Linked DNA regions of Homo sapiens: region 2 is linked to region 1. Evidence: fine-mapped QTL for protein levels in blood plasma. Region 1 holds a variant in brackets. A gene starts in the other region. All regions are shown on their forward strands. Region 1 has its middle 87 kb from the start of FAM30A. Region 2 holds the start of IMMT (inner membrane mitochondrial protein).

The links. PIP is the chance, under the fine-mapping model, that this variant and not a neighbour inherited with it causes the effect. Protein levels are from antibody-based Olink assays in UK Biobank. Linkage for the fine-mapping came from a reference panel and not from the study's own genotypes, which makes the PIPs less certain.
Region 2: IMMT starts here. The variant in region 1 is fine-mapped to the plasma level of the IMMT protein (UK Biobank, PIP above 0.99).

Annotation. Positions count from the first base shown.
Region 1 is chr14:106,002,662-106,008,189 of GRCh38, forward strand. It overlaps IGH and IGHV1-3. Among named protein-coding and RNA genes, the nearest start is that of FAM30A, 87 kb to the left of the region's middle. The variant G/A (reference allele first, on the strand shown) is at 2,875.
Region 2 is chr2:86,192,524-86,197,583 of GRCh38, forward strand. It overlaps IMMT (inner membrane mitochondrial protein), which reads right to left and starts at 2,939. Exons shown (of 15, transcript NM_006839.3): 1 at 2,815-2,939. The coding sequence starts at 2,859. MIR4779 (microRNA 4779) reads right to left here and starts at 585; the gene lies at 503-585. RefSeq lists enhancers at 2,440-2,489, 2,610-2,789, 2,810-2,929.

The sequences.
Region 1 (5,528 bases):
TGTCTGAGAGAAGAATCCACGTGAGTAAAGGTGCGTTTGTCTGACAGAAGAGTCCACATGTTGACAGATGTGTGTACCCATCTGAGGGTAAATGCCCATTCAGGGACAGTGTATGCCTGAACTGAGCTGAAGTTTGGGGAAATATTTCTCAACCAAGGAAAGAAAATAATCCTGTCGGTTATTTGCTTGTCAAGAGGAAAAAACCTGGGTCACATAGAAAATTGATTTAAAAAAAAATTTAAAAAATTAAAGGTCTTTAGTGAATGGCAACATCTTATATGCAAATCAGGAAAATTACCTCATTCTTTGTTGCATACATCTCATGAAATCTCCACCCTCACAAAATAAGTAATGAGATAATTTTATACAATCTGCATTTGATCCTTGGGTTAATGAACTGCTAAATTTTTTTTAATTGTATATATTTAGGTTTATATTTTCCATCACAAAACTATGTGCTTAGACAAATTAATTGTGTCATATCTGAACCATTGCATATCACTAAAAATAATTTTAATCTTCTTAAACAGTGTCTTTTTAACTTATTTTATACCCAGTCTCTAAACTCCTCGAATATCCTCTATATGTTGTTGTTTACTTGACTACAGTTTTGGCTTTTATAGAATTTCAAATAAATCAAATTATACAGTGTCATTGAAATGACTTCACTGAAGAAAGTGGAAAATGAAGTTGCTGACCTAAGGAACTTTGAAAATGAGGAAACTCTGTAAGTTTAAAGTGTAAAGAAACTGAACATAAGCACTCTATTCTAGTAGATAAACATGTTTCCTACAAGGGTACAGCTTTACATTTCTGATACTGCTATGCATGTGTCCTGAAATTGTGCAGCTAAGTAATAAAATGGCATATGGTTGGATGGGGTTCCTCATTTTGCAGTGAGAGGTTATAGACAGTCAAGGAAGGAAGGCTAGAAAGATCCATGTGGTAGCATAATTGGGTAGAGAGACCAGTGTGTTCTCATTTTTAATGTAATCACATTACAGAAGGTTAGATACATAGTTTACTAGGCCAGTTGGTTGAGAGGTCCTGCAAGTACTTATACCACATTAACAATGCACATACCCAGTATTACAATTTTTTAAATACTATTCTTTAACATCAGAAGCAAGCAATCTTTAGAAAAATGGCTGATTCTATGTATGAAAAAGATAATATAGAAAATGAGTTTAGAATTTATTATAATAGCAGGAAACAGGGAAGTGTTCAAAAACAAAAGCATGAGGTGAGCTGTAAGGATGCAGGATCCAAACTCAATGAGCTCCCAGCACATAATAAAGCCATGGTGGTTTGAAAAATAAAATGAATAATGTAGCATGGATCTTCTTCAGAGTATGAAATAGACATCCATAAACCAATACACATATTAATAAGTGATCAAATAAAGAAATAATAGGAAGAGGAACACATCTTTTTACAGAAGTATTCCAAATATGTTAGGTTGATAGTCCTCCAATCAAGTAGGTGAAGCTTAAACACTCATGAGATGATTGTAGCCTGAGATTAGAGACATGGAAAAAGTAATTGATATTACTGTATTTTATAATGAGATTTCAGATATAATACCAAAGACATGATCTGTGGATGAATAACATTTTACATTTTTAAAATCTAAATTTGTATAAACACACACACACACACACACACACTTTTCTGCAATACATACTGATAAGGGAGTAAAAGACAGCCGCAGACTTGGAGAAAATACTTCCAAGTCACATATTTGTTAAATGAATTCTTTTAATTTGTTAAATGATTTTATAATCAATATGCAAGTAAACTTACAACTAATCAAAAGAAAACAATGCAGTTAAAAATGAACCAAATATGAGAAGAGGCATCTCGGCAAAAATTATATGAAAATTGTTAAATGTGAATTTTTATTACGGAAATGTGCATTTAACTAAAAATTAGATACCATTACTCACCTATTAGAATGGTTAAAACACACAATTCTCATAATGATAAATGGCAATATGAATGTGGAAAACCAAGAACTATCATGCATTGATGGTGGGAATTCAAAATGCTACATGCACAAAATGAGTTTTTTTGGCATTTTTAATAATAGAGATAAAAGTAGAGATAAAATGTGATTTGTGTGTGTGTTCCAAAATATTTACAACACTGATTCAGAAATTGATGTTTACACAGATACCTACAGAGGAAGTTCTGTATCAGTTTTATTAATTCAATCCCTGAAATTTGCTTGCAGAATAAATATTGTATGAAAAATCTCTCAAATAATTAAAATTTCTCAAATACATGTTTATATTGTTCCTTTTCCTTAATGACTTAATATCATTTTCTGAGAAAGTCTTCAATCTAATAATCTTTGTCATTTCCTCCATGCCAGCACAGCTGCTTCCCCCCTGGGGTTTCTGACACTCTCAGGATGTGGGTTTTCACACTGTGTCTCTCGCACAGTAATACACAGCCGTGTCTTCAGATCTCAGGCTGCTCAGCTCCATGTAGGCTGTGCTCGCGGATGTGTCCCTGGTAATGGTGACTCTGCCCTGGAACTTCTGTGAATATTTTGTGTTACCATTGCCAGCGTTGATCCATCCCATCCACTCAAGCCTTTGTCCGGGGGCCTGGCGCACCCAATGCATAGCATAGCTAGTGAAGGTGTATCCAGAAGCCTTGCAGGAAACCTTCACTGAGGCCCCAGGCTTCTTCACCTCAGCCCCAGACTGCACAAGCTGGACCTGGGAGTGGGCACCTGTAGAGAAGACACAGGAGTGGATGGAATTCCCCTTGACTGGCCTCGATCCCTTCCTCCTCACTGGGATTTGGCAGCCCCTTACCTGTGGCTGCTGCCACCAAAAAGAGGATCCTCCAGGTCCAGTCCATGGT[G/A]AGGCGTTGTGCTCTGGGGGCTTCTGAGGAGGGATGTGGTTGTTGGGTGATGCTCTCAGGGCACAAAGATATCTATAGTCATCTCAGTTATTTGCATATTCATGAGCGATGCTATTTCATACCTAACACAGCATGAGAAAGAGTGGAGAGATGACACATGGATTACCCAACAGGAGGATGCTAAGGGTTCAAGCTATAATCCCCTTAGAGGCCATGTGTGCCCTGCCATATCCCTAAGCTGTATGTTGACAGAGCTTCTCCCACTGGAGAACAATTTTCCCTAGAACAGGACTTCACTGGGAACCCACACTTGAATAGCTCAGAGGTAATTTAAAGTATTTCTAGGCTTTAATACATGAATGTGTTATTTGGGGGATGAGTGTGTTTCTCCAAAAGTTGCACTTATTTATATAAAATAAAAGCTTAATTGACCTCCAGATGCTTACTATTAAGATATGTAGCAGGGTTAGAAATCTCCAGTGTAAATTGATAAATTCTTGCAATTGAATAGGATATTTATGGACTCTTCAGCAGTTTTTGTCAAATACTTATTTTAGATTTTTTTAGAAGAATGACACAGATCTTAAGGGGACTCCATCCGCAGCCTCCTGTGCACCTGCTCTGGGGCTGGAGCCTGTGCTGGGTGGGCCTTGAGCGCCCCCTGCAGCCCAGCCCTTGCACTGCAGAGAGGCTCCTGTCTGGGCTCCCAGAGCATTTTCCCCCCAGTATGAAGTGGCTGTGTCCTGGCTCAGAATGCTCCTTTAGTGACACGTGACACCATGTGCTGCTGACGCCATCGCTTGCAATAGTAAATTGGTCGTAGGAAAAAGCCAGTGAACTCTGCAGAAACACCCCAAGCAAGGATTCTATGAAACCACCAGGGAGCCCCTTCTGTGGCGCTCCGGAAGCACTGGATCAGTCCACACTCACAGTGAGTCCAGGAGCTTCCAGGGGCTTTGGGAGAACACCTAATCTCTTGTCGGTTCCTGTGGATGAACATCTCATCAGATAATTTCTAAACCTACAAAATCATGGGTCTCAGAAGCCACTGCAAAACTCCTAATACACACACACACACACACACACACACACACACACACACGGTGGTTAGAGTCCCCACAGTAATGGACACACACACACACACACACACACACACACACTGTGTCTAGTGTCCTCACAGTAATGGGAGGGAACTGTGCCTTACTCCCTGTGTCTCGCGCATTGGTCGTGCGCCCACAGTGCCCCTAGGCCTGGGGATATGCCCTTGTCAACAGAGCGACAGCAAACACTTTACTGGAGATGGGGCCCTGCACACACTGTGGCTTCCCTGTTCTCCCAGAACCTGGGATCCTGCAGATACCCCTAAGAAGAGTCCAGGCTCCCCCTGGGAGGGTCAGCCACAGCCCAGCCCCACCGAGTCGGTGCAGCCTGCACTGAGCCGCTGACCTGTGGAGAGGGTCACGCCAGACCCACAGCCCAGCCAGCCCCACTCCCAGAGGCACATCAAGGAAGGGGGCAGAACCCTGGGGACTCTTGATGGGCATCTTTTCAGGAGCAGACACACGAACTGTTCCAGGAACAGGGGACCTGGGAAGGTCAGTAGCTGGTCAGGGTTTCTGAGGACCAGCGTCAGTGATGGGACCTGCCTGTCCCTTCTCATATGGGATGTCTCTCCTGGGGATCCTGTACTGTCTTATTTGTGCAGGTTCACTCTGTGGGACTTGTCTTTATAAATCTCAAATCTCAGGAACAGGAGAGCTGTGCTTCAAAAGCCCCCATAGAGAAGACACATTCCCATCCTGCTGTGACTGAAACAGCTCCATCCTGGGCATGGGGAGGGCTCATGTGTCCCACCTGGGATGAGAAGCAGCAGCCACACGTGAGCTGAGGAGGACTCAAGGCTGCTTCCCAGCACTTCCCCACAGAGTGAAATTTGTGTGTTTGCCCCAAATCCAGGCTGGCCCTGTGACTTGCTTCTTTCAAACTTCTTGGCCTGGAAAGTGCAGGCACCAGCTGTCACTGTCACCACTATTGTGACAGTGTACACAGCACCAGGACAGGATCCCAGGGATGGGGCTGAGGACAGACACTAGCTAAGTGGACCCATTGAAAACGTGCGGATCTGCTGAGGTTCACACTCCTGGAAGGACAGATCTTGGAGGGTTTGGAGGAGGAAGCAGCCACTGTCGGTGACTCAGGATCTGCTGCTCTGCGGGTCACCTCGTTGGCAAGTAACAGTGGGCAGGTGAGTGTGGTTCATCCCCTACAGGGACACCAGGCTTCCAAATGCCCCTCTTCACCAGGAAAGAAAGTGGCTTTGTTCATACTGGTTGCTCCAGCCGTCTGGTCATCCTGTCTTCCTGACCTTCTTCCCGTGTCCCTCAGGGCTGTGACACATGGACAAAGACACTTTCTACTCCAACCATTGATTCCCCAAGCCAGCTCCCTCTAGAAAAGCCATGATGTCTTCCTGGTTCTGTGTCCCTGGCTGAACCAGAATGGACACACATGGATATACCAAAGTGTCAAAGTGGAGGAGAGGAATCTTGGCAAAGATCACTCAGGAAAGAGAAAGGAATTCATTTGTGTGCAATGAGAGGGTGTGGGGCATGTCTGGAGGCTGCAGGAGCCAGAAGCTTCATATTTTTTTAGTG
Region 2 (5,060 bases), not on the chromosome of region 1:
TCTACTTGGAGCCAGGGACTATTGTTAATACTGGAAATACAGCAGTAAATATGGACACAGTTCCATTGTGGAGCTTACTTTTTAAAGGTGGAAACTGTGTAATAAATACACATTATAACATCAGGTAGTGCTAGGAGCTACAAAGTATAACAAAGTAGGATGGGGTAAAGATATAGTGATACAAGGAAGGCAAGAGTAGTCAGAATTCTATTTTGGATCAGGATGCCCTCTCTGAAGGGAAGGTGACATTTGAGAAATTAACTGAAGGGAATAAGTTAAGCAAACCTGTGAGAAGAGTTCAGGGCAAAAGAAACACCTGATGAAAAGGCAGTGAGGCACATGCTGGAGATTACCAGGAGAATCTGAGTGAGGCAGTAGAAAAATGAAATATGAGAAGAGTCAGATCAAGGGCCCATGGTAAGCAGTTTAGATTTTATTTTGAATGTGATGCGATGTCTCCAAAGAGCATGACCTCATGTTTGCCTTTTAAAAAGCCTTTTACTAAATGTCTTACTGCTTTTACTATTCCCTCCTAGAGTAAAGAATGGACTCTAGGAGGGAACAGTAAAAGCAGTAAGACATTTAAGAAGATGGGGTTGGCTGGGCACGGTGGCTCGTGCCTATATTCCCAGCATTTTGGGAGGCAGAAGTGGGAGGATCATTTGAGCCCAGGAGTTCGAGACCAGCCTGGCCAACACAGAGAGACTCCGTCTCTACAAAAATTTTTTAAAAAATTAGCCAGGGATGGTGGCACATGCCTGTGGTCCCAGCTACTCAGGAGGCTGAGGTAAGAGGATTGCTTGCGCTCAGGAGGTCAAGGCTGCAGTGAGCCATGACTGTGCCACTGCACTCCAGCCTGGGTGACAAAGTGAGACTCCGTATCCAAAAAAAAAAAAAGAAAGATGGGGTTTAATAAAGTGGAAAGGATCTTGACAAGTGAGATATTCTGGATACGTTGATACAATCAAATACGACGAGGCTAGAGAGTCACCTGCTTGGGGATTAAAGTTCTGAGAGTTGATGTAATCTCAAATTAGAGAGTCTATAAAGAGACAGGAAGAGATGAGAAGGTGTATATTTCGAGGTACAAAGCAGAAGCAGACTCAGTAAAGGAAAACAAGAGAGATGGGACCCAAAATATTACTTGAGAGAAGCCAAAAGTACAAAGAGCCTCATAAAGCAGCAATGTCAAATGCTACAGAATTAAGGAGATGGTGAGAATAAACCAAAGAATTTTACAAGACAGCAATTTCAAGAAGCTTAGACATCTTGATTCAGAGCTATAAAAGGGTTCATTTTTTATTACCAAGTTTTAATTAGTTTTCTTAATTCCCAAATGGGATCCCAAAAAGTTGACTCTGAATTAACTGAAAAGGAGGTCATCCAGGTGGGCCTGGTCTAATCACATAAGCCTTTTAAATCTGGGTCTAGAGAGGAAAGACCAAAGTAAAAGAAATTTGGAAGTCAGAGAGGCAAGCTCCTGGTAGCCTGCACGAAAGCAAACATCAATGTTATGAATGGCCTCTAGAGGCCTTGAGGCAAGGAACTGTAGGCAGGCTGTAGAAGCTGGGAGCAGTGGCTGGCAAGAGGCAGCAAGAAAAGAAGTACTTCAGTCCTGTAACTGCAAGGGACTGAATTCTGCCAACAAACTGCATGAGCCTGGAAGAGGACCCTGATCTCCAAATGAGAACCACAGCATGGCTAATACTTTGCAGCCTTATGTGACCTGGAGCGGAGAACACAGATCATCCGTGCCCAGACTTCTATCCTACAGAACCCGTAAGGTCATTCATGGGTGTTGTTTTAAGCTGCTAAATTTGTGGTATTTGTTACGCAGCAATAGAAAACTAACACAGGTTCGTTCCACTTTCCTATGGAAGGGGCTGCTTCTGTTACCTAGCAGCAAATAGGAAGAGAAGCGAACTTGAAAAAACAAAGCTTGACTTTTATGATCTCTAACTCACTATTCCTAGGGATTCTGTTCAATTACTGCTTGAGTCACAGTACTTGGTTTGCTATCTACATTTTGCCAAAATATCAACTTCCTGAAAATCATGAGCAGTGGAAACAGGCTTTTTAATTTTCAATTTTAGAAAGTAACTTTGGCAATTACGCAAAACTAGAAGTAACTGGGTATTTAGGCTCCTTGAATGTCAAAGTAGTCCCAGCGCCTGGAGACACAGATCCCTGCCCTAATCTCAGAAATGAGCCACAAGGTCATGACTCCTGTCTTTCCTTGAAGACCAGGAGTTTCAGCTCCACAAATGAAAATCTTTCGCTTTTGTTTGGATTAAGAATAACTCAGAAGTGTTCTCAGCTGCGAAAAGAAAGGCACTCCCTCCCAGATAATTACAACCTTGACCCCTAAAATGTGGACTCTCGCTAGAAGTCCAGGCACCTCCTTATTAAGGATGCAACAAGCCGCCGCTCCGCTCGTCCTGACGGGAACTGTAGTTCTCGCCCGTCGACCTTCAGCACTGAAAACCTATCGCGCGCCCAACCGGCGACCCAGACGCCAGCAGCCAGGATTGGTCCTGGACGGGGGCAGCGCGGCCCTGATTGGACTACATGCCCACGAAGCCGCGCCTCCCGCTACTCTCCACACCCCACCCCGCTGCTGCAATAACCTCAAGTCATCCCAGTCCGGCGAACTCCCTGGTGGCTGCCTAGCTGCCCGCCCGGGCCTCTCCCGACGAGGGTGGCCCTGAGGCTCGCCTTTGTCCTGGAGGCTAGGCAGCGACCAAGGCTCCCCCGTTTTTCGCTGACGGTTCTAGTTCAGCCTCCTCACGCGCCTCCGGGAGCCCCAGTGCTCACCTGGGCGGCGGCGGTCACACCCGATAACTGACAGGCCCGCAGCATCTCGGTCAAGCGGACGGCGCTGCTGGTGGACTCGAGCTGCCGCGGCGGCGCGAGTTAAGTGGAGGCGTGCTTGCGTGTGTGCGTGCCCGCGTCCGCGCCCGGCGCACCGGAAGCACAGCGGACGCCACTGCGCACGCGCGGCCCCTTCTACCGTCCCCGACTCCGCGGCTCTTAGAGGGTGGGCTGTGTCCCGGCTGCGGAAACGCCAACTCCAGGCGATTGGCGCGAAGGAGGCGAAAAGGGCGGATTCCCTTTCCGGGTCGCGCCCGGGCTGCAGGTCCTTATCCGGAAGGGGTTACTAGGTGAACACTGCCGGAGGGAGAGCGCTCTGAAATCCATTCTTCAGCCGCACGTGGAAAATGGACAGCTGTGACTCTTAAAGAGAATTAAAGCAACAAAGCATCTCAGCCTGCTCTATGAGCTGGATATTTCGTAGGAAGGAGCCGATTTGGCGAAAGTTACGTAAACAATGGAATTGTCTCAGTTTGCGCCTTTGTTTCGTTTGACAGCCCTCCAGGGAGTCATAGTGATTGCTGGAGACGGTGAACTAACACTGTGGGGACCCTTGTGCTAAACGTGTCAAGTGGCACAACAAGGATAGGAACACGGGTCCTTTGGACTCCACAGCTTCTGCTCCTTCCAGATTAAGCCACACTGCTTTCTCCAAGTTGTTACTGTAGTAACATCATTTTGGCTGCAGTTTGTGGATGGGTTGGAAGATGGGAAGTCAATGCAGAAGCACCGTTGAAAGTATTCCACTGGGCAGGGCGCGGTGGCTCACGCTTGTAATCCCAGTACTTCGGGAGGCCGAAGCGGGAGGATCGCTTGAGCCCAGAGGTTCGATACCAGGCTGGGCAACACAGTGAGACCTCGTCTCTATATAGAAAAATAAACAAACAAAAAATTTAAAAAGAAAAGTAGGGCCAGGAGCTATGACTCACGCCTGTAATCCCAGCACTTTGGGAGGCCAAGGCGGGTGGATCGCCTGAGGTCAGGAATTCGAGACCAGCCTGGCCAAAATAGTGAAACCCCGTCTTTACTAAAAATACAAAAAATTAGCTGGGCATGGTGGCGGGTGCCTGTAATCCCAGCTACTCGGGAGGCTGAGGCAGGAGAATTGCTTGAGCCCGGGAGGCGGAGGTTGCAGTGAGCCGAGATCACGCCATTGCACTCCAGCCTGGGCAACAAGAGCGAAACTCTGTCTCAAAAAACAAAAGTATTCCATTGATTCTGTAATCAAAATAAAACACGTTAAATATTAAGCATGGTATTAATACTCCATGTATACTCCAGAATTAATATGTTCGTATTAATACTATTAGCATCTTATTGCAATATCGTGGAAACTAACTTTTCTATCTTCTATTGGATTTGCAAAGTATTCCAAGTCTTAACTGGGTAATTTATTACAATATGTATTCTCTCTAGAGGTAGACTGCGCTATGACTTGTAGCATGGAGAGATGGACTTGAAAATTATCTGAAAGCAATAGTTATGTTTGTATATGTTCTATGTTCTATGGTTTTTAGGGGACTACAGTAATTACATATGTTTCATATCTCTTTCACTTAGCTTCCAGAGCAGTCTCCCGTTTTCTTTAGTAATTTTAGCAATTGAATTGCTGCCTCCCTGCCCACTGCTGTCATGCCCAGTGGTGCCGGTGTGATGACTTTTCTAACACCCTTGTCTTTGAACTTCTTAATGCCAGTGAACGCTTTCATCCTGCTTCAGTCATGTGGTGCCCGTGTGATGACTTTTCTAACACCCTTGGCTTTGAATTTGTCAATGCCAGTGAATGTTTTCATCCTGCTTCAGTCATGTACGTCACAGCCACAACTTGCGCCTGAACATCATTAGCAACCTCTCTAGCTTCAAGATCTCAAACCTCAAAATTAGCCTCCCAACCCCTCATAACCTACGTGGAGAGTCCTCACTCTCCACTTGGAAGTTGTCAATATTTTTGCTTTAAAATGTTATCAGGCAGGCCAGGCGCTGTGGCTCACACCTGTAATCCCAGCACTTTGGGAGGCTGACGCGGGCGGATCACCTGAGGTCAGGAATTCGAGACCAGCCTGGCCAACATGGTGAAACCCCGTCTCTACTAAAAATACAAAAATTAGCTAGGCTTGGTGGTGCGCGCCTGTAATCCCAGCTATGTGGGAAGCTGAAGAAGGAGAATCACTTGAACCTGGGAAGCAGAG